Linked DNA regions of Homo sapiens. The protein of the gene in region 6 purifies or fractionates together with the protein of the main gene of each other region. This does not show direct contact. Each region holds a gene or a part of one and is shown on either strand. Other genes may lie near its edges.

Region 1 (3,500 bases), on a different chromosome or scaffold from region 6:
GAACTAGAACTTGCTCACAAGCAGGCTGGCTCGAGGCCCAGTTCCCAAGCTCAGTCTGAAGAACAGCAGAATGAGCAGACTCATAACACGGCAAACCCGCTGATGCCATTACAGGCTAATTACACACCCGTCCAGGTTGCTATGAAAGGGGTCCCTTTTCGGGGGCAGAGAGGGGGCAGCTTGCAGGCAATGAGTACCAAGGTCCCAGCTGGTTCAGACTGTAGGCTAGGTGCTAAAGGATCATTCCCAAAACGTGCCATGCCCTCTCACTCCAGTATATCTGCATATGCTGTGCCTTTCATACGGCAAATCCCTTCCTTCCTTTGCCAGGCGAATTCTTCCAGCCTCTCAAGCCTTGTTGTGATGAAGCCTTTCTCAAACTCCATGCTGCTGGTAACTGCTTCTCTGTGGTCCCTGAAACTGGAGTGGGCTTAGGATGGAGCAGGGAGCAGACAGGAGGAGAAGGAGAGCAAAGGACAAAATTCCCACATACATGGGAAACGGGACCATAAAGTGGCTGCTTAAAGAGCACTGGGAGACAAGGGTAGAAGGTATAAGAGTGTAAAGGCTGCTCCACCATTCAGATGTGATTCTGAAGGCAATGGGGAGCCACTGAAGTTTCTAAAGCAAGGCAGTACCATGGTGAGGTGGTATTTTGGAAATCAGGGAGAGACAAAAGAGCTGTGGCCCTTCCTCCATAGCTCTCCTAGGTCATGAATTTCTCCAAAGAAACCAATACCATTAACTCCCCCATAGCAAAACACACAAAGCCAAAGTAAGCAAAAATAATCTCCACTCGGCCAGGTGCGATGGCTCATGCCTGTAATCCCAGCACTTTGGGAGGCCGAGGTGGGCGGATCACAAGGTCAGGAGATCGAGACCATCCTGGCTAACACGGTGAAACCCCGTCTCTTACTAAAAAACACAAAAAATTAGCCGGGCGTGGTGGCAGGCGCCTGTAGTCCCAGCTACTCAGGAGGCTGAGGCAGGAGAATGGTGTGAACCTGGGAGGCGGAGCTTGCAGTGAGCCAAGATTGTGCCACTGCACTCCAGCCTGGGCAACAGAGACTCTGTCTCAAAATAATAATAATAATAATCTCCACTCACCAAGGATCTTTCCTGTACTGCCTCATCACCATCCACAGCCAGCCATCCCTTACCAAAGACCTCCTGTGTACAATGGTAGTGCAGGCAGGTGGCTGGCGGCCTCACAGCCTAGTTGCACAGCAAGGCCAGACAGTATGCTCTAAGTGCCAAAGGATCTGTACAGAACAGGTAACAGGAGCCTCAGCTGTAGGGCTGAAAACACCATTATGGAGACACTATCTGAATCATGCCACAGAAGATGTGGTGCTGACCAGGTGACAGTGCCAAGGTGGGGAATCTTCAAGAACTGATAGCAAGGTCCATACACAGGACAAAGGAGGTGTCCCACTAGCCAGCACAGGGCTCATGCGGGGGTAGGGGGAAGATAAATTAGGTAAGGGAGTTAGGAACAAAGCAGGCATCCCACTAGCTAGCACAGGGCTAGTGCAGGTGGGGGAAAGGTAAATTAGCTGAGAGAGTTAGGCTGATGTGTGGGCTTCAACCGATTCAGACAAATACATATTTGGTCCCTTGGGTAGTGGAGAGCTGAGGGCTCCCGGCTGAAGGCAAGAAAAGCTGGCAGCCTGCTGTTGCTTTATGGTGCACACACACAGCTCTTACAGTCAATAGTCTTAAAAGGGCAGATAATCACATCTGCAGATTCCTACGGCACAGTTCCTGGGCTCAAAGCCATTCTAAATTAGTTGATTAATACTTTTCACATAATAATATGAAGACGAGCACAGGGCTTTTCTACAAACTTCCTGTAAACCCGAAAGTGACTAAGAACCTTTTAAAGTTTTCACAAAAATCATATTTAACCGTTTCCTTCAATGTCAAGAAATATTAAAAGGTTACAGACTGAATATAAAATATGAGGTTTGAGTGTGTGTGGACTACAACTTCTACAGTCTCCCAAAGCACCTGGGCACTGGCAACCACCCAGGACTGTGCTAAGACGATGAACAGAGATGAATCAAAAAGGCCCTTCCCTTAGAGCTTACCACCCCACGAATTTCACAAAGTAGGCACCAAAACTATGTGGCAAATTAATAAAACACAACCTATTCATATGAAATTTCACTTTAGGGCCATCTGTTATCCTGTACTCAGCACGTTTTTCTGCCCTAGAAGATTTTCTAGAATCATACTCTAAGAGCATAAATATCTAATCTATAACCTCTGATGTGAAATAAGAACTTAATTTTAATTCTATTTCCCCTCTACATGGCAGTTAATTAAATATTGCTCCTTGTGAGCAAACTGAGAGAGTCCCTTCTCCCTGGACCACACCTACCATGAGAAAAGGTGTGTTGTACTATAAAATGATAATGTTTCAGACTTTGGTCCATGGTCCAACTCCAAGAACTTCTTTATAACACCTCCTCAAGTAACTGAGGTCACAGGAATGTGAAAGCAAGACAGCTGCGTGGACACCAATGGCAGCTAAGTTAGGAAGCCAAAGAAGAAACATGTAACACTTGGAAACTCTCAGCATTATAATAAACCATGCGCACCTTCTCCCTGGACCACACCTACCATGAGAAAAGGTGTGTTGTACTATAAAATGATAATGTTTCAGACTTTGGTCCATGGTCCAACTCCAAGAACTTCTTTATAACACCTCCTCAAATAACTGAGGTCACAGGAATGTGAAAGCAAGACAGCTGCGTGGACACCAATGGCAGCGTAAGTTGGGAAGCCAAAGAAGAAACATGTAACACTTGGAAACTCTCAGCATTATAATAAACCATGCGCACCCGTGGCTATCTGTTTTACCATGTTAGCTCTTATAAAAACGAATGACGGAAACAACTTGTCATTTTAGTTGCTACTATAAAGACATTACTTCACAAGCCCTTCATCTTGCAGTAAAATACAGCAGTATATTCTCAAAAGCTTAGACGTAGATTAACAACGCAGAATTAACTGTGTAAGTATGCACAAAAGTATATACTTATTCAAGTCTAAGGATAGACATTCTTAAAGCACAGAATCAAATGCATGGCTAAATCTTATCTTCTTTGGCTAGTCCTAACTTACTAGTTCTTACAGACAGAGCAGCCATCACAAGATTATCATGAGAGACGGTGGCCACTGTGAGATTATCACAATCAGGTTTTTAAACCTTGGCTAAGCCTCACTCACAGAACTGTATGACCTAGCTATGTGAATCAAAGACTGCCAAATATAACTCAATGTTTTCTCTCCCCTTCCTCAATAATTAAGCCCTGAGTTTTAGCTGAATATATGGCCACGGAAAAAGAATCTTTCCCAGCCTGTCCTGCAGGTAACTGCGGCCATGTGACTGAATTTTGGCCTGTGGGATGTAAGCTATGCCCGTAAGAGAGTGGGCATGGCTTCTTCCTTCTCCTTCCCTTTTCCCTTTCTTGCTTGTTGGAATGTGGAAAATG
Region 2 (2,902 bases), on a different chromosome or scaffold from region 6:
CCTCCTTCTAACTCACTGGGTTCAACAAAGATGAACAAAATGTCCATATGTCTGAAGCTTCATACTTGACCTTGGGGTCTCAGAAAAGAATTGAACTTTCTTCCTTCTGTTTTCCCCTGCTCCCCGGTATCCTGCTATGCCCTCAACCCTGAGCGTCTCTAGAGACCTCACTGCAGTCTGGAGGGGGAAGTGCCTAGGGGCGGGCGCTCACGGTAGGCTGTGCTGCTCCTCTCTTACCACCCCCACCGCCACCCTCTGCCCCCAGGGAGAACAGCAGCAACATCCTGGACAACCTGCTGTCCCGCATGGAGCAGTACGCGAACAATCTGGAGGAACTGGTGGAGGAGCGGACCCAGGCATACCTGGAGGAGAAGCGCAAGGCTGAGGCCCTGCTCTACCAGATCCTGCCTCAGTGAGTGCCTGAGTCTGGGGACCCCCCCCAACACAAAGCCCCTGTCCCGACCCCCAACTCTGATCCTGCACCTGCCCTGACCCCTTAGCTCAGTGGCTGAGCAGCTGAAGCGTGGGGAGACGGTGCAGGCCGAAGCCTTTGACAGTGTTACCATCTACTTCAGTGACATTGTGGGTTTCACAGCGCTGTCGGCGGAGAGCACACCCATGCAGGTAGGCCAGGGTTCAGCCACAGGTGCCAGGCAAGCTCAGCATCTGGATCCCACCAGACCTGCCTTCTGGTTCTGCTTTACCCACCTGACCCCAGGTGGGGTCCCCTACTTCCTGTCTCTCTTAGCTTCTCTTCCCTTCCAGGTGGTGACCCTGCTCAATGACCTGTACACTTGCTTTGATGCTGTCATAGACAACTTTGATGTGTACAAGGTGAGGGTGGGAGTGGGGATGGGAAGGGACAGACAGACATGGACAAGGTCAGAAAAAGATGAGGGGTAGGCAGAATGATGTGGAGTCTTAAGAGAGGAGATCGGGGACACGGGCAGAGACAGTGACACAGGGAGACCCGGGAACAGGCAGAGAACCCATGTGGGATGGGGGATGAGCAAAGACAGATGAGGGTACAGAATGACAGACGCTGCACCCGGTGTGACGGTGTGGCCGGCCGCACAGTTGCAGCCGTCAAGTCCTGCACCCCCTCGCCACTCCCACAGGTGGAGACAATTGGCGATGCCTACATGGTGGTGTCAGGGCTCCCTGTGCGGAACGGGCGGCTACACGCCTGCGAGGTAGCCCGCATGGCCCTGGCACTGCTGGATGCTGTGCGCTCCTTCCGAATCCGCCACCGGCCCCAGGAGCAGCTGCGCTTGCGCATTGGCATCCACACAGGTAAGGCCACTGAAGGTGCAGGCGGGCATCCAGAGGCCAAGGCTTCGCAAGGGAAACTTGTCCCCTGGCCCAGCCCCTCGCCCTTTCATCTCTCTCTCTCTCTCTCTCTCTCTCTCTCTCTCTCTCTGTCTCTCTCTCTCTCTCTCTCTCTCTCTCTCTCTCACACACACACACACACACACACACAGAGCTGGGACCTCAGATCCTGCCTCCTGCCTGTCTTGGATTGTCCACCTACCTCCCTTAACACCCCTCCCTCCCTCACTCGCTGATGGGCTCTGCTCCTTCCCTTGCTCCTCCCAGGACCTGTGTGTGCTGGAGTGGTGGGACTGAAGATGCCCCGTTACTGTCTCTTTGGGGATACAGTCAACACAGCCTCAAGAATGGAGTCTAATGGGGAAGGTACAGTGCCCCCTCCTAGAGGGAATGGGGAGGGCAGGGTGGCTGAGGGAAATGCCATCCTGGGGCAGCCTGTGCCTGCACAGCCCGTTTCAGCTCCTAGCCCTTTCGCCTCCCAAGTTCCCCTTCTCATAATATTAAGAGTTCAACCTGGGCTCATCAACTTGACTGTAACCAGAGACTCAGGTTCCTGCTGCCCCTCTTGTCAAACGATGTAAAAGTATTTCCGGGCCAGTGCTGGAGAGTTCCCAGCAGGAATCTGATTTTAAGACCCTCTGTGGGCCGGGCGTGGTGACTCACACCTGTAATCCCAGCACTTTGGGAAGCTGAGGCAGGCGGATCACCTGAGGTCGGGGGTTCGAGACCAGCCTGACCAACATGATGAAATCCCGTCTCTACTAAAAATACAAAAAACTAGCCAGGTGTGATGGCAGGCTCCTGTAATCCCAGCTACTTGGGAGGCTGAGGCAGAAGAATTGCTTGAACCCGGGAGGCAGAGGTTGCGATGAGCCAAGATTACACCACGCACCCCAGCTTGGGCAATAAGAGTTAAACTCTGTCTCAAAAAAAAAAAAAAAAAAAAAAAAAAAGACCCTCTGCTCCACCTTTGATGTGGTAAAGATGGCTTCAGAGCCAGCATAAGTGAGGCTGTGAATCTCAGCTCCACAGCTGGCTGTGTGTCAGTTTGCTATACCTCTCTGAGCCATGGTTTTCCTCATCTGTAAAAAGAGGGAAAAAATCTATCTCACAGGAATTATGTGAGAAACCCATTAAAAATGTCTACCACATAATTGTCATTTAACTTTTCCAAGCCTTAGCGGATTATCTGTAAAATGATGTCTATCTCAGGATTGCAAGAAGCCTAGCACAAACCCTGGTACCCAGCAGGCACCTAATAAATTCTTACTCCTACCCGCCCCTTGCTCTTGCCTCCTGTTTATCTTCTATCCTTCTGCTGTATTCGACACAATTCAATGCAGTAAACATTTATTGAGTGACTACTGAGTGCCAGGCCCTGGGATAGTAACATGGCCCAGATCCAGAGTTAGCTGAGAAATTCATGTGGACCCCATCTAAACCTTATGGTGAAAGAAAGGCTGCTTGGGAGCCAGTCCTGGGAGCCCAGAGGGATCTAGTTCGGCAAATATTCCCTGGGCACTATTTTGGGGGCTGTCAGAGTACAGCCCCTTGTTGAGGGTCCAGTCCTCAA
Region 3 (3,500 bases), on a different chromosome or scaffold from region 6:
CTCTTTCCAGGAATTAATATGCACTCCCTTGAGCCCACAGTTCTTCTTAACCCTTGCCTCATGTCTGCAAAACATCATACAACTTTGCAAGTTGCACACTGACAACCCCAAACCCCCCTATGTATAGGAACTTCAGACTCCATACATCAGCATTCAAGCAATGATTCTGTTTTGGCTTCATTAGTACTTGGTAGATCAATGTTTGTGAAGACTTTACAGCCTTTTTCCTTTTCTTTCCTTTGTTTTTTTTTTGTTTGTTTGTTTGTTTTTTTTGAGACAGAGTCTCGCTCTGTCGCCCAGGCTGGAGCCCGGAGTGCAGTGGAGCCATCTTGGCTCACTGAAAGCTCCGCCTCCCAGGTTCCCGCCATTCTCCTGCCTCAGCCTCCCAAGTAGCTGGGACTACAGGCGCCCGTCACCACGCCCGGCTAATTTTTTGTATTTTTAGTAGAGACGGGGTTTCACCGTGTTAGCCAGGATGGTCTCGATCTCCTGACCTCGTGATCCGCCCGCCTCGGCCTCCCAAAGTGCTGGGATTACAGGCGTGAGCCACCGCGCCTGGCCTTCTTTTTCTTAATGTATAAAAGTAATCAATGAAAGACAAAAGGTGCTGATAGTGGTAATAAAAAGCATATGTCTGATAAACTTAACACAACTAAGACAACCTAAATCATTAGGAATGCTGAAAGCAATTAATATGTAGTCTTATTCAAGCACTAACTGGACCTAATCTGGCTCTATTGTGAAAGATAAGAATATTAGCTAAGAACACGTATGAAATGCTGGAAATTGTTTCTTGAAGTCAATATAAAGTTTAAAGCACAGTGATATTTTTTAGATTCCAGGTCACAGAAACTCCTATAATATGGCAAGTTATAGTTTACTGTGTGGACTGTTCACCTCACTACAGGTTTCAACAAATGTATTTTGTATGAATATATGGAACTGTCTGTAATCAATGAGGATTTTGTCCCTATCAGGTAAATAAGTTTCCATCTTGACATATCATATCCTTCACAGTATACTGATGGGATAATAAATTTTGAGAAAAAGCCAATCATAAGATGGAAAGAGAAGGTAATAAAGTCAGTGAAATAATGAGACTCAATGATACGCTGATTTTAATTTCAAAAAGGAAATCTTATTCTTTGACACCAATTTTAATTGGAAAAAAATCCAATTTTTCCCTTAAAACATTATTAACACTTATATGGACTTACTAAACAAAGTGCATTTCCTACAGAAGGTTTAGAGTATGTTTCCGTGTATATAGACTATGTATGTGTGTGTCACAATATGTTGTGATAACTGAGGGACGTAAACTCTTGGGTTTCACATATACAAAAAAATTATCATAACCAAAATATTGAAATATAAATCCAACAAACTGCACTATTATGAAAACAAATATTCTGAATGTCAATCACTTGACCTTGCTCAGATTGGGAGAGCTATGATCATGCGGGAATAGTATATATGCTTTCCAAACCAAATCATCTTTATTTAAAAATAAGATTCAAAATGAACACGTACCTAACACATACACACATAAAAATGACAGGCATACACATTTTTTTTCTTTTCAGGATTTTTCAAAGCATTTACTATCCCATAGAATTAAAAGAGATGCTGCCCCAAAATAATAATTTTTAAACTTAATCTTTTTTTAAAAAGTGTTCTAAGAAAGGGGAGTTTTTACACAGTCATATTGGAATCTAAATTTGTTTAATGACCAAATTATAAACCTCTGCAATCTGACAACTAGAGTAGAAATACTAACTATAGTATGTGCTGCCATAATAATGATACCCACAAGATCAGCCCAGTGCTTGTAGCTGTGGCAGGGTCCCCAGGCAGCAGGATAACTGCTGCTTGATCATTATCCCTGCTAAAACTGAAGCTACTGAAGTTTTAAAGAATTCATATCTTACTGAATTTCTTTCATCTCTAATAATTACTAAACTGGCATAATTACTTATACTAGAGGTGGAATGTGATGCATGCTAAAAGCCCAAGGTGCCTAAAATTAAAGTTTTTTATTAAAAAAAAAAAAAAAGCTGCGATTCTACTTAGTTTTCAGAGATTTATCTTGTGTCGGGCTTTTTATGCCAGGAGTTGCATAATTATTTAAACCATTTAAAAGCTTTCCTTACACTATTTGATTAATACTATAACAGAGCTATTTAAATTTACTAATGTTAACTTTAATGTTTAAGTTTTAATTGCTTTGTAATAACACTGTTGCAGAACATATTTTAAATCAGACAAGTACGCTTTCACTACAACAAACAAGGTATATGCAATCCTAGCACCATGTAGTCCCCAAACAAAAAACAGGAACATTTCAGATTTAATTGAAATGGAATTAGAAAGTTGCATGCATCTCCCCCACCCCTAGAACTAACTTTAACCTTTGACAGCACAACAGGAGTCAATGAAGAAAAAAATTAAATACATCTGGGAAAATACTTAGCTACAGGTTTGACGTGGAATATCAGCCTTTGTATCAAAATCTCATTCAATTCAAAAGCATTCTTTCACATCTTACTTAATGATAATATTTACATTTTTAATGATGCAGACAGCTGCTAAAATAAACAAATACTGCAAGTCTTAAAATCACTTTCCCTCTTAAAATTAACTGAAAAACTGAACATAGTATCCATTAAATCCAGCCATGAGGAATGTATTCTGTGGCAACAGAATTAATGACAGTAAACCAGCAATGTGAATCCTGACAGATGAATTAATAAAACACATTAATAGGAAAAAGAGACCCTTAATAAAATTCTTAATTGATCTTAGTAGACCTACTCTTTTCTACTATCAAAACCTCTTTCTTCTTATTACATGCTTTTACATCAAAATGAAAACTCAAGCAAGTATACTTAATAATATGCTTCAACTTATGTCAACAAGTATTTAACTAGAATTTACCAGACTAACGAGCCCTCACAAACAGACTCCTTTAAAAATAGAGGGAGGCAGGTACAAATGTTCCTCTAAGGTGAAAAGAAATCTCCTACAAATATGCTACGAGTCTTGCACTAGACCAAATAAGCAAGTACAAAGAACTAAGTATAATTACCGGAAGCAAAAAGTTGAAAAATTCTGTCATCACTGTTAGACGTCACTGCTGTCAGTAAGGATAACTACAGTGGTTTTTAAAGGATATGGAAATACTCTGGCAAAACAAAAAAGAAAAATTATTAACAGCTTGCTTTATAAAAGGCTGCTTGCTAATCTCAAATCCCTTTGTAATTTCATTTTTACATGTATGCTTTTATGTTCAGTATCCTATTTTTTGTCCTTTTTTGGCTGGATGAATAAAAGACAACAATCCACTCATGCATAAAACAGATGTTTTTGTTTTTAAGGCCAAGTGGAATCTTATGAATTTGTGTGCCCTCACTTTAGGAAGATGCTGCCAGAAGTGCTGAAATCGTGAAACCGGCGTTTTGGAAGAGACTCACTGGACCATCAGTTCTGGAACTTTGACTAGC
Region 4 (3,500 bases), on a different chromosome or scaffold from region 6:
ACCTTGCATAAAGCTCAGCAATGACTCTCACAATGGATCCACTATGACTACTGGGTGGAGGATGGATTGGGAAGGGGCAAGAGCAGCTGCAGGCAGCCCCATCAGGCAGCTGGGGCAGGAATCTCGGTGAGAGATAATACCAGCTTGGGTTAGGGAGGTGGCAGAGGAGACTGCTTGTAAGAGAAGCAGTGAAGGGGTGTCTTGTTTATTGTTTTTTTAATCTCAGAGCCCAACACCATGCTCAGAAGACAATAACAACTTAGTAAATATTGTGAGTGATTTGAAAGAAAGTCAAAGCTTTACGTTATTTCTCTCTGTGGAGATTTTTGAGACTAGGCAGGTAAATATGTATTACCAGTTAAGGAGGCTAATTTTTCTTGCACAGTGTCCACTACAGATGACACAGATACATAATAAAAGGGCAAAGTGGTAATGAAGGCAGCATGAGTGAAGGTTAAAGATGAGAACAAGCATTCATATTCAAAGATACTCAGAGGCCCAATCTATGAGGGAGGAGTTCATGTAGAGCAGAAGGAAATAAAGTTAGATTGGTTAAGAGTGGCCAAATCTTGCCCCAGGAAGTGATATACAAAAGCAATGGTTAGTATATTCGAAATCCTTATGATGACTTCAAGAAACAAAGACAAGGGTCATGGAGACAAGGTTCCAGGAGACTGACATAGTAATTCAAGAGAGATGAGAAAGTAAATGAGTGTAGCACCCATGGAAATGTTTAAAGGTAGGATCAGTAAGAAATGGGACAAGTGGACAAAGAGAAAGGCAGAAAAAGATGAGTCAAAATTGACTTAGGTTTCCAGCTTAGGCAGCTAGGATAATGCTGGTTTTACTGGAAATAAGGAATATTCACTATGGTAGGAAGAAAATAGTTTCGTTTTAGACATATTAAAGTTTGAGATAATGATGGGACACAATTATAACCATCTTTAGGAAGACATGAATTAGAATTCAGAGACTATAGGTAAAATATTTGGCAGTCATCAACATGGAAATGATGACAGAACATTTGAGAGCAAGAACTTGAGTAAGAAACGTCACAGAATACCTCCAAGTTTTTTTTTTTTTAATTATTTTTTTAGGAGGGTAGGGAAAAAGAAGCCAGGGTAGAAAACAGAGGAGTACAGCTAAGAGAAACTGGATATTATCATCCCACCAAGGCCAGGAGATAATCAGAAAAGAGCCACCTCTAAAGAGACAGAGATGACTCTTTAGAGACTTCTTTCCAAGAAGATTCTTAGAGTAAGTGGGTAGGCTGGAGGGTTGGAACAGATGGAACACAAATGACAGAGCATCACGTAACATGAGGAAAATCATCAAGTAGATCACTGAATATGCCAAGAGTATTAAAGCTAAATTATTAAAAGTTAAAATTATATGAAATATCACAGTCTTGGATGAGAAAACTAAAGAGGTTAGGGTTTGGTTTTTTATTGTTAAATTAAAACAAGATTAAAGTCTACTAAAATAAGTTATACAATTTTATAGCAAAATAGCTAAGGTGAAATTAGGATTGAATATTAAGTAATTAATAATCTAATTTTATAAAATCTGAAAATGAATAAACATATTATAGATTGCTTTTTTCCCTGAAGTTTTCTAATCAAATAATCTTAAATCATATCCCACATCAAGCTAAAGAATTTAGGCCCTAAAAATGCAGAATAAAGCAATATGGTAAAAGATAGAAAAGGAGCAAGAAAGAAACAGCAATAATTTAGTGTGGAAAGAAGGAAGTGAAGGTTTACTAATGTGGAATATAGGAATGTTTGCATAATGCATATATTCGCTTATTCAGCAAATCTATATTAGACATAAAATAGGTATAATGTGTTGGGGCTACCAGGATGAATGCAGTATCACTCCTCAATGGATTTACAGTCTAAAGTACTACGTTTACAATACAAAATATATTTTATTGTTGTACTTAAGTAAAACCTAAAGTAATGTGATTACTTTTTAACCATCCAACCTAGATTTTTGTTGATCACATAAGTCTAAATTACATTGGCTGAGATTTTACAAAAAGACCCTCAAATTCTAAGATGATCTAAAGTGTTAAATGTGTATAGAAAAAAATTCTACTGCATTAGTGGTTAGAAAAAACATCAATTCCTATAACCCTATAGCCCTGACATTTAAATTTTAGGAGATGGCAACCATGACATAACAGGAAGAAAGATCCTCTGAATTTTTCCTACGACATTTTAGCTAGGAATTTGATGATACTGACAAGACTAAGCAGACAATTTGTAGATTTCCTCCCACATTTAGTTTAGTTAACAGTTCTTATTAAACCAAACATCCAGCAACTAAATTAAATTTTGTTTTGGCCCATACAGTACATTATTATGGTTCATTAATACTCACCAAATGGGATACCTTAACAGATCCTTCACAATTAGAAGGTTCACCCTTCTCTCTGCTTTCCAAAATCTAGATAGAAAAGGCAAGCTGTAGAAAAATTAGTGCATTCTTACTTGGAAAGATCTAACAGATAGATAGAATTACCTACCATCCTAAAGATGGTATGAGAACGACTGCTTCTTTGATTCATTTTTGTTTCTCCATAATGCCTGCTCTCTGTAAAAATGAGTTATATTTCAGCTGCATATATAATAAAATCCATAGAAACACAATAATTTTTATTTTAACTTAAAAAAGTATGATTTGAGGTCCAAACGTGCTTGATTGAAAAGATAGTTTTTACAAGTGTTCTAAAGAAATACAGCATAAAGTCTTACTTTCTCCCTTTGTAATCCATTTCAAAGCCATTTCTGATGTATATACAACTTCTTCTGTGAGATCAGCAACATACACATTCCTCTGAAACAAGTTTAATTATGGAAAGATTAGAGAAATAGAAGTCACAAGTTTGCTTTTCAAAAGAAGGTGCAAACTATTATAGAATTCATTTGTGAAAGTTAAAAGTGGCAAATGGAACCATAATTCTGTAGGAATGTAACAAATAATTCTATGAATACCCACAATTTATTTCACATACCAAAGCACAACAAATTCTAACCTGATACTTCCAACTTGCTATTTTTACACTTAAACCAAAATATTAGAGCTGTCAGTATTTTAAAACTATTCATATTGTTTAAAAGATGAATATAAATACTTCAAAAAAACCCTCACATACTATAGAAATAGGAGACACTTTAAAAACTATAGAAATTAAAGGTAAACATTCAAGAACAATAATCTCAATAAGTCAGTCAATTTTAAAGCTCCCTTAAGTCTGCTACTCACATTGACATCTTCTCGAATAATTAAAGGTTTCATTTTTTGAGTGCCACAGAGTAAATCTGTAATGGTTTCATTGTATATTTCCATGTAAGATACACGTAAGAGAAATTCCCTATCAGGAAACTAGAAGAAAAAAAATTATATAAAAACACCAGGAAGCATCCAATTGTGAAAACCTAATGCTAAATGCTCATGTGCTTAAAGAGGTAAAATGTATGTAAAACAAACTAAGA
Region 5 (3,500 bases), on a different chromosome or scaffold from region 6:
AAGCCAACAGCAGGGTTGCAGGGGCTTCCCTGCAGCTCCTGAAGCTGCAACTGTTACACCTGAGAGACAGGGCTGGAAGATAAGGCTGCATTCTCGGCATATCTGGCACATGCCCTATGCTCACTAACAAACACAGAGACTGGGGGTGAAAGTTCTTTCCTAAAAGAAGACCAATGGAAAATTCACCTTTGATCTTAACCCCACTGAAAAACACTAGTTAGTATATCCAGTCTAGGACCAAAAGTGGAACAAACACCTAGGCTAAGCGACAACTAAAGAGAAAGGCTAGAGAGGAAGACGCTGTTGGATCTAAGAGACAACCAGCAAATTAAGAAACCTACTACCCTATCCCACATTATAGGGACCACCTGGCTTCAGCCAGAGGTTGTGTGGCAATGGGGGCAGGGAGTAGGTCAGCAAGAAACCCAGAACTCACCGGAAAATTAGGAAGCTGGAAACACCAAACATGATGAAGGTGATTCCTGTGCCCAGAGCCACAATTGCCAGGGTTGAAAGTGGAGCTGAAGGGGAAATAGAGACCCTGAGGAAGACTGTGTGCGGACTTGGCAGAATGGAGAACGGGGTGCATAGGTGCATAGACAGACTCCTTGGGAGTAGGAAGAAATGAGGAGGGAGGGATGCAGACGTAAAGGCAGAAGCACAGTTAAGAGTGGAGGGTCAGTGAGGGTGGAGGCCATGAATGGAAAGCAAAGGGAGGAAAGCTGCTCCCAGTCCCTGCACACACCCACTTTTATCACAGGATGGGTCGTCCAAGTCAAAGGCACAGGGGGGATTGTCCGAGGGAGGAGCCCCCTTCACCCAGGGAATAGGCCGTCCCGTCCACCAAATCTGCTTCTCAGCTCCCGAGTAGTGGGCTGCAGGCTGTAAGGAAGCAAAAAGCTGGGCCCACAGGCCTGCTCCCACCAGCCTCCTCCCCAGACCCCAGCTGTTTCGCTGCTTTTCTCCCCAGCCTACCACCCAGCCAGGATGCAGTGCCAGCAGAGAAAACAAATCCCTCATCTAGTAGTTTTGGTTCTGCCCCGACTGAACCCTTGAAAGCTGGATTTTGCAGGGCCACACTCTCTTCCCTGCCTCCTCCTCCATCACCTGAAAGTCCCCAGAATCCAGGTCTCCCATGGCCCAGAGGACAAAGTCAGTCTCTCGGTCATTGTTCTTGTCCATGACAACCAGCCCAGTTACACCTAAGACAGAAAAGAGTGTCCTTTCTTTGAGGTCTACCCTGGGCTCCTCTCCCACTCACTCATGCCTACGGCTCCCTCAGAGTCTACCCTTCCCCGATCTTGAGGTGTGGGCAACTCTGCCATATTCACTAACCCCCACTAAAGCTGTGGTGATCCTGACATCTGTTTCTTCTTCAGCCCACTCTATTCCTGACATCAGCCCTCAGACCCCCATTGACCCCTCTTCATTACCGTGATATCTTCGTCCCTGCATCTTTTCCACAATTCGAAGTCCATCCTCCCGGGTGCCTCCTTCCTGTATTGTCTCATTCAGGACTTCAGCATATAGCAGGATCCCATCATAGAAGCAGCCAGCGATGAGGTTCATCTGGGGGTGGCAACTTCAGCAGTACTCTCCAAATGTCCTGCAAGGCCCCTTCCCCTCTCTCTGGGGTCTCCCTTCTACCTATTCTCTCTTCTGGTTTGCTTTCTTCCCTCTTATTCCTAAAGTGCCATCCCTTCCTAACTACTCCATAGGGCAGAAGGAAAAATCCTGGACAGAAGCGGAGACCCCCCAAAGTTGGGCTTGCTCCACAGCCAAGACTTGATGCTGAGTTTGGGAGAGAAGCCCTTCCCCAAAGCTTGACCTGACTCTCAGGAAGGGAGAGATCTACTTACCAGGGAAGGGCCCAGCTCCACACCAAAGTCTTCCCGGGCTCTTATCAGCAGACGATTCTGGAATTCCTGATACTCAGGATTTGGGGGTTCTCGGTACGTGATCACCAATACAGTCTGTACCAGCAGCATATGGGGAAGAGTGAACAGGATTCAAGATAGGCATTATGGGAAGAGAAGATGCAGGACAGGGAAACTTGGTAAAATATACATGATATAAAATATACACAGGTGAGTCTGAAGGCTTTGAAAGGGCTACTAACCTCTCTCTCTCTGCGTGTGTGTGTGCGTGTGTGTGTGTGTGTGTGTGTGTGTGTTGTGTTGCATACATCTGGGAAGAGGGAGTGGCACTCCTCCTGAAAGGTAGATAGGACTGGTTCTGGGAAGGTGGAAACTGGCAAATAATAGTCAACCCCATCCCCAAAGCCCAGCCCAACATCTTCCAGAGCTCCCTTCCAGCATCCAGGTTCCTGCCAGGCCACCACAGCTCACACGGCTCCTCTGTCCCATGCTTTCTGGGTATCTGCTTATGATCAAGGACAACACCCACTAACAGCTCCTCTCTGAGATGTTAATCACTGTTAATGTCATCAGTAAAATACTAACATTGTCATTTCGGCCACTTGAACACAGTGTCTCCGCCCAGTGAATTAGAGAGATTTCAGGCCCTATGACAACTGAGGGAAATACTTTGAGACAGTGATTCCACCTGTGAAAAGCTGTGTGCTCATCCATTTAATGTGTGGAACACCTACCACAAACAGCACTGTCCTGCTTACTGAGTAATAGATGTGTCACAGGGACAAACACACAGTCACATGCCCACACACATTTCACAGGTAAGCAAATGACACATGTGATCTCAGACATGCACACATCTCACTGGCGCATGAGTCAGCATCTCTGTCTCTCACCAAAGTGCCTGCTTGGCTCCCATTAGTCTCACACATTTCCCCTTCCTGAGCTGCTGGACCTCCCAGTCTCAGGCCCTGCCTCAGGCCACATAGTCACTGAGACCAACTTCTGCTCCAACAGGAAACTGGCATCACAACTTCAAGGAAAGACTTCAGTTCAATATATTTTATGAAACATGACTTTGTGAAATGATAATTTAAAATCCGGTCATTTCTCCCAGTTTTGTTTATTCTTGTCATAGAAAGTACATGTGGACCATAGAGATACGCTGCACTAGACACATCACATATGGCCTATTATGTATCAATTCATTAGAGATAGGAAATAATAAAGTCGATTTCTAATATGCATTCATTATATTATATTAGACTGCAGCTTGCCTCAAGATATCATTATTCTTACTAGAGCATTTAGCTGCCTGATTACACACTTCTAACATTCTCCCAGTCTCAGGTAAAATTTTTTTAAAAAGAGAAGGGAATTGAGGAAAGGGTTGAAATAGTTCATTCAGTAGCACCTGTTCCAAGAATAAAATAAAGAGGTAGAATATTGTTGACAAGCAATGTAAAAAGTCAGGAAAAGGGCGAGAAAAGATCAGGTTCAACACAATTTATATTTCAATAAAGGCTGATGATAGGTTTTTAACACATTTTAAACACTAATTCTCAACACTAAGTTTGGCTAGTTTGTTAGGCTAGCAGTTATCAAACTTTTGGTCTCACAATCGCT
Region 6 (3,500 bases):
GATGAGGCTAATTTGACTAAAATGGACCTGGAGAGTCAAATAGAAAGTCTGAAAGAAGAACTTGGCTCTCTATCAAGAAACTATGAAGAGGTAGGAGGGGGCTGGGGTTGCTGGGTTGGCCACAAGACCAGAAGTTCACATCTGTCTGCCTGTGCTTCATAACAAGGCCACAGTAGCTCATTTCTGACTCTCCACATTGCGTGCCCAGGACTGCAGGGAACATACCTGTAAAATACTTTCAGATCCTTGAAGTGGGTCAGGTTACCCCAGCAGTCTCAAACTCAAATAGCTTCAGGAACCAGTGTGGTACAGAAACAGGGGAAGGCAGCCAGTCTTGGCACTAGCAAATGAGGGAACTTGTGTTAAATTAGAGGGAGCAACCCCTCCTCAATGCATTCTATGTCAGGTTTTTTTTTCAACACTGTATTATACAAACAAAACAACTCTGAGGGTAGATCCAAGCTGTGGTTGACATCTACTCATTAACAAAACTGGGTCAGATTATTGAGTGACAGAACTGAAGAGGACCTCCAACAGTTATGGGGTCTAGTTCCCTGCGAGACTTCAGCAATTCTAAACCACCTCACACATATTACTGTCTGATCCAAGATTTAGGCTGCTTCAAGTTGAAAGAGTCAAAACCCACTTAACGATGCTCACATTGGGAAGTTCTTTCTTGAGACCAACTTAAGCTAACCAGCAACTGTAAGCCCATTTCTTCTTGTTCTTAGCTCAGTGATTTAAGACTACTCTCCAACAGTAACCATTTAGAGATGCCAAAGTTATCTTTTAAGTCTCTTTCATCCTTGTCTGGCTTTATGCATAAATGCCCTGTGCTGTTGTTGCTTACTTTGTTTTTGTTTTTGTTTTTGTTTTATTTTACTTTAAGTTTTAGGGTACATGTGCACAATGTGCAGGTTAGTTACATATGTATACATGTGGTTTTTTGTTTGTTTGTTTGTTTGTTTGTTTGTTTGTTTTATTTTGATTTCTGCTTTGGGCCTGGGCTTGTGGAGACCAACCTAAGAAATGCATCCTTGGTGCTAGGCATGGTGGTTCAAGCCTGTAATCCCAGCACTTTGAGAGGCCAAGGCAGGGGATCACTTGAGCCCAGGAGTTCAAGACCAGCCTGGGCAACATGGTGAAACCCTGTCTCCACTAAAAATACAAAAATTAGCTGGGCATGGTGGTGTGTGCCGTGCCTGTGCCTGTAGTCTCAGCTACTCAGGAGACTGAGGTGGGAGGACTGTTTGAGCCCAAGAGATGGAGGCTGCAATGAGCTGAGATCATGTCACTGCACTCCAGCCTGGGTGACAGAGTGAGACCCTGTCAAAAAAAAGAAGGAAGGAAGGAAGGAGAGAGAGAGAGGAAGACAGACGGAAAGAAAGAGAGAAAGAGAGAGAGAAAGAGAAAGAAGGAAAGAAGGAAAGGAAGGAAGGAAGGAAGGAAGGAAGGAAGGAAGGAGGGAGGGAGGGGGAGGGAAGGAGGGAGGAAGAAAGAAAGAGAGAGAAGGAAAGGAAGGAAGGAAGGAAGGGAGGGAGAGAGGGAGAAATGCATCCTTGGGAAAAGAGAAATTACACTTACGCTGGGAAGAAGGTCAGGGACTTTCCCAGTCTCTGTGAAGCCTGTGTCTGGCAGTTGTGGAATGAGAAAAGAATTGCCCACAGAGCTGGTTTTCTGCTGGCTAGAATTCTATGCCATTTATTTCCCCCCGTAACTCATCTAAGATGTATATTGTTGTTTTCAGGATGTGAAGCTGCTGCACAAACAGTTGGCAGGGTGTGAGCTGGAACAAATGGATGCTCCCATTGGCACTGGTCTGGACGACATCCTTGAGACGATCAGAATTCAGTGGGAGAGAGATGTTGAAAAGAACCGGGTGGAGGCAGGAGCCCTGCTCCAAGCTAAGGTGAGAGGCAGGACCAGCATCCTCCACTCTGCCCTATGCAGAAGGAGGCCACGCTGAGCTGCAAACTAGTCAATGTGCAGACGAAGAAATAACAACGGTTTAGTAACAAGTTCAACCTCATTAGAAACAGAAGAAATGAAAATTAAAATAATAGCTTTTTGTTTACCTATCTAAAAGTAGAAAATGTTTAAAATGGTAAAAATGCTGGCAAGTATGTGGAGAAGTAGGTTCTCTACTGTATTACTGAAGAGCATAAACTAGTGCACTGCCTTTGAATAAGAAATTTAGTAATATGCACCAAGAGTGTTAAAATGCCCCTAGCTACCAACTGAATAATCTGAATACAATCCTGAAAGAATAATTGAGGCCGGGCGTGGTAGCTCACGCCTGTAATCCCAGCACTTTGGGAGGCCAAGGCGGGCGGATCATGAGGTCAGGAGATCGATACCATCCTGGCTAACAGGGTGAAACACTGTCTCTACTAAAAATACAAAAAATTAGCCGGACGCATTGGCAGGTGCCTGTAGTCCCCGCTACTCGGGAGGCTGAGGCAGGAGAATGGTGTGAACCTGGGAGGCGGAGCTTGTAGTGAGCCAAGATTGGGCCACTGCACTCCAGCCTGGGCAACAGAGCAAGACTCTGTCTCAAAAAAAAAAAAAAAAAAAGAATATTTGAAAAAATAAATCATCTGTGTCCAAATATACTCACTGAAGCATTATAAGAGTGAAAAAAACATACACATTTACTAGTAGAAGAAAATCTAAGCCACAACCTACCTATGTGCAGTAAAATATCAGGCAGTTATTAGAATTAATGTTTATGAAGCATTTATAAAATAGGAATGTGTTCATAATATGAGGTAAAATGAGGAGAAAATGAGAGTACAGAATGGTATATGCCAGAAGCCAAAAAATATTCTCTGTAAAGGACCAAACAGTAAATATTTCAGGCTTCTTGGGCCAGATGGCCTCTGTTGTAACTCCTCAGCGCTGCCACTGCAGTGTAAAAGCAGCTGTAGCCAATAGGTAGCTAATGAGCATAGCTGTGTTCCAATAAAACTTTATTTACAAAAATAAGCGGTGAGATGGATTTGGCCTGTGGACTGCAGTTTGCCACTTCCTGGTATATACAGTAGGGTAAAGCATTCAAACAAAGAAACTAGGCATTGAGAAAAAATTTTAGAAAGAAAAGACTAAAATGGGATTAGCAGTCGTTGCCTTTGAGTGATGGATCAGTCTGACACTTTGAGATGTTTTTTCTTTTTTGTTTTTGAGTATTTCTCAAGTTTTTGTTAAATAGTATACATTATATTCATGGAAGAAAAACAACTTTTATTAAACCTCATAAATAATACAGGAATTAACCAGAAAATAGGATGCATAGGGTTTGTTCTTCCCTTCTCCATCTCCCACCCATTTCTGACTTTGTAATCTTGAGACAGAGGATGAAAAGTGACAAGGAAGGAAAATGTGGAAAAGTAGAGAAAATAAGGTAGATGTCTGAGTTAAGGCAAAAGGCTGTTTCTGAGCTCTTGATTACTATTTAGTGGTTCTTGATCCTGGCTACGCAGCAGAATTATTTCAGAGCATTT
Region 7 (3,500 bases), on a different chromosome or scaffold from region 6:
GGTTCTACTGCCTCTGCTTCCTAAATATCTATTGAATCCATTCACTCCATCCTCTCCTTTCTACTGCCTATAAAACTGCCATTATTTCAAGCCTTCAAAATCTGGCCTCCTGCCTACTTCTCCAGTGTTGTCTCCTGCCTTGCCCCACAGAGCTCTCACGCTGCAGCCATGAAGAGCTGCTTCCCATTCCTCAGACTTGCTGCATTCCATATGAGCAGCATCTTGCCTTGTTCATCCTCTAGTCCCAGCACCTAACCCAGGTTTTATAAGGTAGACACTATAAAAAAGAACACATCATGTACTATGTGCATGACTTTCTACGTACGACTCTCATATGTAGTCAGATGAAACTTTCATACACCGTTCCCTCTGCCTAGTGGGACTTCCTAAATACCCTCCCCTGCCCCACAAACGTCTAAACCTCAAGACTGTACCCAAGGTCAGCTGCTTTGAGAAGGCATCCTAATTCTCGAAGGCTGAAGTGGTGCTCCCCTCTCTATCTCTCACAGTGGTCCATGCAGACCTCTACCATGATCATAAGTCAAGATGACAAGTTTACATCTGTTTGTCTTCCATGCTAAACTGTAGATTTGATGGCATTTCCTGTGCTCGGTACCCAGTTGGGGAAGAGGATCAGGTCATAAGCAATTGCCAGATTTTAGGATATTTGTTGTGCCTTATCTGCTGAATAAGCTAATTACCTTTGTATTCTGAATGATGTCAACCATTTATTGTTTAGTGCACACTGCAGGGAGGCCAAAGAAGGCTATATTTCTGCTTTCTTGAAACATAGTCTGGTTGAAGAGACCAGGTATCCAAGGAAAATTAATACAAATACAAAAGAAGAGTAAGTTCATGAGAAATATGGCAGAAGAAAAGATCACCGGGTCCACATGATTTGATTTGGGAACAGTTCAAAGAAGGTAAACCAGGGAAGATTTCTTTTTTTGTGGGGGAAAGGGTTTCACTCTCACCCAGTTTGGAGTGCAGTGATACAAAAAAATTAGCCAGGTATGATCATGGCTCACTGCAGCCTCAACTTCCCAGGCTCAGGTGATCCTCTCACCTCAGCCTCCCAGATAGCTGGGACTACAGGTTCACAACACTACACCTGGGCTAATTTCTGTATTTTTTTGTAGAGATGGTTTTCACCACGTTGCCCAGGTCGGAAGGGAGGATTTTAATAGAAAAGGCATTTCCAGTTTGAAGAAAGAATAGAATGAATGTGGGAACAGCCAGAGTCTGGGTTCTGGGGATAAAAATGGGGACATGTGTGTAGCATACAGGCAGTCTAGCTGGGGCAAAGTGTTCATAATAGGGAGATAGGAGACAGGGGAAGAAAGGTTTGAGCAACAGGCTAATGAGGTCCTGTAGGTAACTGAAATCATAAAAGGTCACAGTTAGAAAAAGAGTAATGTTTTAGGAAGACTATCTGTAAAATAAAGATACAATTGGAAGAGAAGAGAAGGAACCCCAGGATCCTACCTTCTCCTTTAGTTTTGTCTGTAGAAAGAGAGTCAGGCTCTGTAGTTGCTCAGTCAGCAGCCCTAGCTTTTGAGAGTACTGCCGTGTTTTCTCCAGATCTTGCTCCTGGTTATCTGCTATGGTGCTGGCCAGTTTAGCCCTGAAATAAGGAACAGGGAAGATGACCAAAGACCAAATTACCTTCTCTGAACGCCTATCCCAAATCCCCACAGAGCTGCATTAAAGGAGAGAAACAAGAGGCTCAACACTCACAGTTCTCTTCTTGGAGATTTTGGCTTCTAGAAGTGTTCCTGAGAAAAAAATAAGCACTTAGGGGGAAGTACAGAAAGTTAGAGAACTTACGTTAGGTTCTCTACAGTGTCCTTGAGGTTCTCACACTGCAAGCTGCGCTCCCGGAGCACTTCCAGTGTGGTTTTCAATTGACACTCAACCTGACCCAGCTCCAGGTGAGCAACCTGATTCTCCTGGTCTGCAAACTGGGAAGACAAGAGAAGGAGCAAGACAGGGAGGGAGAATTTTAGTGCCCTGGGTACAGAGGCTTTTTCTAGTTCACAGTCTCAAACCTTACCTCAACACTATCAGGCAAGAATCACACTCCTGAGGCTTACCAGCTCCCTTGGCCCAAGCCATATTCCTTACCTCCAAGGTCTCTTTCAGGTCCCGCACCTCTTTGGCCAGGACAGCTTGTTGCTGCTGCAGTTCTGCCTGCATGTGTTTTAGTGCCATCTCTTCCTTTTGCCATCTGCCAGAGACAACATATTAGATCCCATTTGGTCCTAAATCCTGGATGCCTACTGCCACAGTACCCCGTTAGGAACTCACTGAGCAGCCTGCTCCTCATTGCTCTGGGTAAGCTGGCAGAGTAACTCATCCTTCATAGCCAGGTCCTGGGCACAATGGGTATGCTGACTCTGTAGCTCTTTTAGCTGGCTGTCCATGTTGGCCAGAATCTGCAACTGAGCCCGGAGATCTAGAACAAAAGTATCCTAATGACACCATGCGGTCAGCAGGCTAGAAACTCCCCAAACTTCTGCTCCAAAGCAAGTGCTCCTGAGTACTTCCTTGCTCTAGTGCCACACTCCAAGCCTTAACAGGGCTCAAATGCTTACATGCATGCATACACACACACACACACAAACACCTGTTGCTAGACGACTGTTTTCCAACTCCAGTTGTTCTGTTTGGCCTTTGCACTCCTCTAACTGGGCAGAGACTTGTTCCAGCACCCTAGAAACCTAGGAAGAACAGATGGTTTTCCTCCTATAGTTCCTCCTGAATCAATAATCCCAGGACTTGGTCCAGCTTCTCTTTCTGGACAAGACAGAAAACTACCTTGCTCCTGGGCATCAACATTGCAGAAAATAAGGTTGATCCTCAGGAAAAAGTAGAGACAGGAGAAAAGTTGCTGAAGTAAAGATGCTGAAGGGCAAAGGAAAAAACTGCGCTTAAGGCCATCTTACAGCTAAGAGACCTTACTGGCTGGCCTCCAAACCCACAGGGTGAAAAGAAAACAGATCCAGGGTAAGAGGCTAATGGTATCACACATTAGGAAGGAAACCAAGCCTAAGCAGTCCCCACTCTTGGTTTGTACCTCCTGCTTTTCCTCAATTGCCACATCACGTTCCTGCAGGGCTTGCTGGCTCTTGACTGTGAGTTTCTCTGTGAGTTGTCGGGACCGACTCAGCAAAGCTGTCCATGTTGTATACTACCAGGGGAAGCAAGCAGGTCAGTAGAGCACACTTGAGGCAAAGCTCACAACAGGACTTGATGTGAGTAAGGAATTAGTTATGATGGTCCCAAATACTCACATCCAGTTGCATGGACCTCCAGTCTTGTTGCAAGGTAGAAGTAAGACTCACTGTCTGCTGAACCAGCTCTTCTTGCTTGGCATGAAGCCCTACCTACAAAAGAAAGATTGCCTAGGCGGGAACCCCTTCCCTTTGGATACAGCAAAGTGGGAGTATGCAACTACCCTCCCAGTCTGTCAGCACAGACCCCAGGAAAGAAAATGCCCT

The links.
Region 1: the proteins of BFSP2 (region 6) and ZZEF1 purify together in Homo sapiens (co-immunoprecipitation; one large-scale study listed by IntAct). This does not show direct contact.
Region 2: the proteins of BFSP2 (region 6) and NPR1 purify together in Homo sapiens (co-immunoprecipitation; one large-scale study listed by IntAct). This does not show direct contact.
Region 3: the proteins of BFSP2 (region 6) and ZNF521 purify together in Homo sapiens (affinity purification with mass spectrometry; one large-scale study listed by BioGRID and IntAct). This does not show direct contact.
Region 4: the proteins of BFSP2 (region 6) and CENPE purify together in Homo sapiens (affinity purification with mass spectrometry; 2 studies listed by BioGRID and IntAct, with this or other methods). This does not show direct contact.
Region 5: the proteins of BFSP2 (region 6) and NPR2 purify together in Homo sapiens (co-immunoprecipitation; one large-scale study listed by IntAct). This does not show direct contact.
Region 7: the proteins of BFSP2 (region 6) and SPAG5 purify together in Homo sapiens (co-immunoprecipitation; 3 studies listed by BioGRID and IntAct, with this or other methods). This does not show direct contact.

What each region holds. Positions count from the first base shown.
Region 1 is NC_000017.11:4,136,531-4,140,030, forward strand, and holds part of ZZEF1 (zinc finger ZZ-type and EF-hand domain-containing protein 1), read right to left. Parts: intron 1-3,500. UniProt on the Homo sapiens protein: Histone H3 reader which may act as a transcriptional coactivator for KLF6 and KLF9 transcription factors.
Region 2 is NC_000001.11:153,688,688-153,691,589, forward strand, and holds part of NPR1 (atrial natriuretic peptide receptor 1 precursor), read left to right. Parts: intron 1-265; coding exon 266-412; intron 413-500; coding exon 501-624; intron 625-765; coding exon 766-834; intron 835-1,017; exon of another isoform or gene 1,018-1,106; intron 1,107-1,118; coding exon 1,119-1,293; intron 1,294-1,596; coding exon 1,597-1,695; intron 1,696-2,902. UniProt on the Homo sapiens protein: Receptor for the atrial natriuretic peptide NPPA/ANP and the brain natriuretic peptide NPPB/BNP which are potent vasoactive hormones playing a key role in cardiovascular homeostasis.
Region 3 is NC_000018.10:25,342,167-25,345,666, forward strand, and holds part of ZNF521 (zinc finger protein 521), read right to left. Parts: intron 3,182-3,500; exon of another isoform or gene 3,086-3,181; intron 1-3,085. UniProt on the Homo sapiens protein: Transcription factor that can both act as an activator or a repressor depending on the context. Involved in BMP signaling and in the regulation of the immature compartment of the hematopoietic system.
Region 4 is NC_000004.12:103,191,844-103,195,343, forward strand, and holds part of CENPE (centromere-associated protein E isoform 1 precursor), read right to left. Parts: intron 3,391-3,500; coding exon 3,271-3,390; intron 2,842-3,270; coding exon 2,760-2,841; intron 2,599-2,759; coding exon 2,531-2,598; intron 2,452-2,530; coding exon 2,386-2,451; intron 1-2,385. UniProt on the Homo sapiens protein: Microtubule plus-end-directed kinetochore motor which plays an important role in chromosome congression, microtubule-kinetochore conjugation and spindle assembly checkpoint activation.
Region 5 is NC_000009.12:35,798,091-35,801,590, reverse strand, and holds part of NPR2 (atrial natriuretic peptide receptor 2 isoform 1 precursor), read right to left. Parts: intron 1,974-3,500; coding exon 1,860-1,973; intron 1,570-1,859; coding exon 1,434-1,569; intron 1,203-1,433; coding exon 1,108-1,202; intron 883-1,107; coding exon 750-882; exon of another isoform or gene 746-749; intron 522-745; coding exon 437-521; intron 1-436. UniProt on the Homo sapiens protein: Receptor for the C-type natriuretic peptide NPPC/CNP hormone. Has guanylate cyclase activity upon binding of its ligand. May play a role in the regulation of skeletal growth.
Region 6 is NC_000003.12:133,448,556-133,452,055, forward strand, and holds part of BFSP2 (phakinin), read left to right. Parts: coding exon 1-90; intron 91-225; exon of another isoform or gene 226-340; intron 341-1,747; coding exon 1,748-1,909; intron 1,910-3,500.
Region 7 is NC_000017.11:28,582,026-28,585,525, forward strand, and holds part of SPAG5 (sperm-associated antigen 5), read right to left. Parts: intron 3,387-3,500; coding exon 3,294-3,386; intron 3,191-3,293; coding exon 3,077-3,190; intron 2,721-3,076; coding exon 2,627-2,720; intron 2,456-2,626; coding exon 2,308-2,455; intron 2,228-2,307; coding exon 2,125-2,227; intron 1,962-2,124; coding exon 1,828-1,961; intron 1,625-1,827; coding exon 1,486-1,624; intron 1-1,485. UniProt on the Homo sapiens protein: Essential component of the mitotic spindle required for normal chromosome segregation and progression into anaphase. Required for chromosome alignment, normal timing of sister chromatid segregation, and maintenance of spindle pole architecture.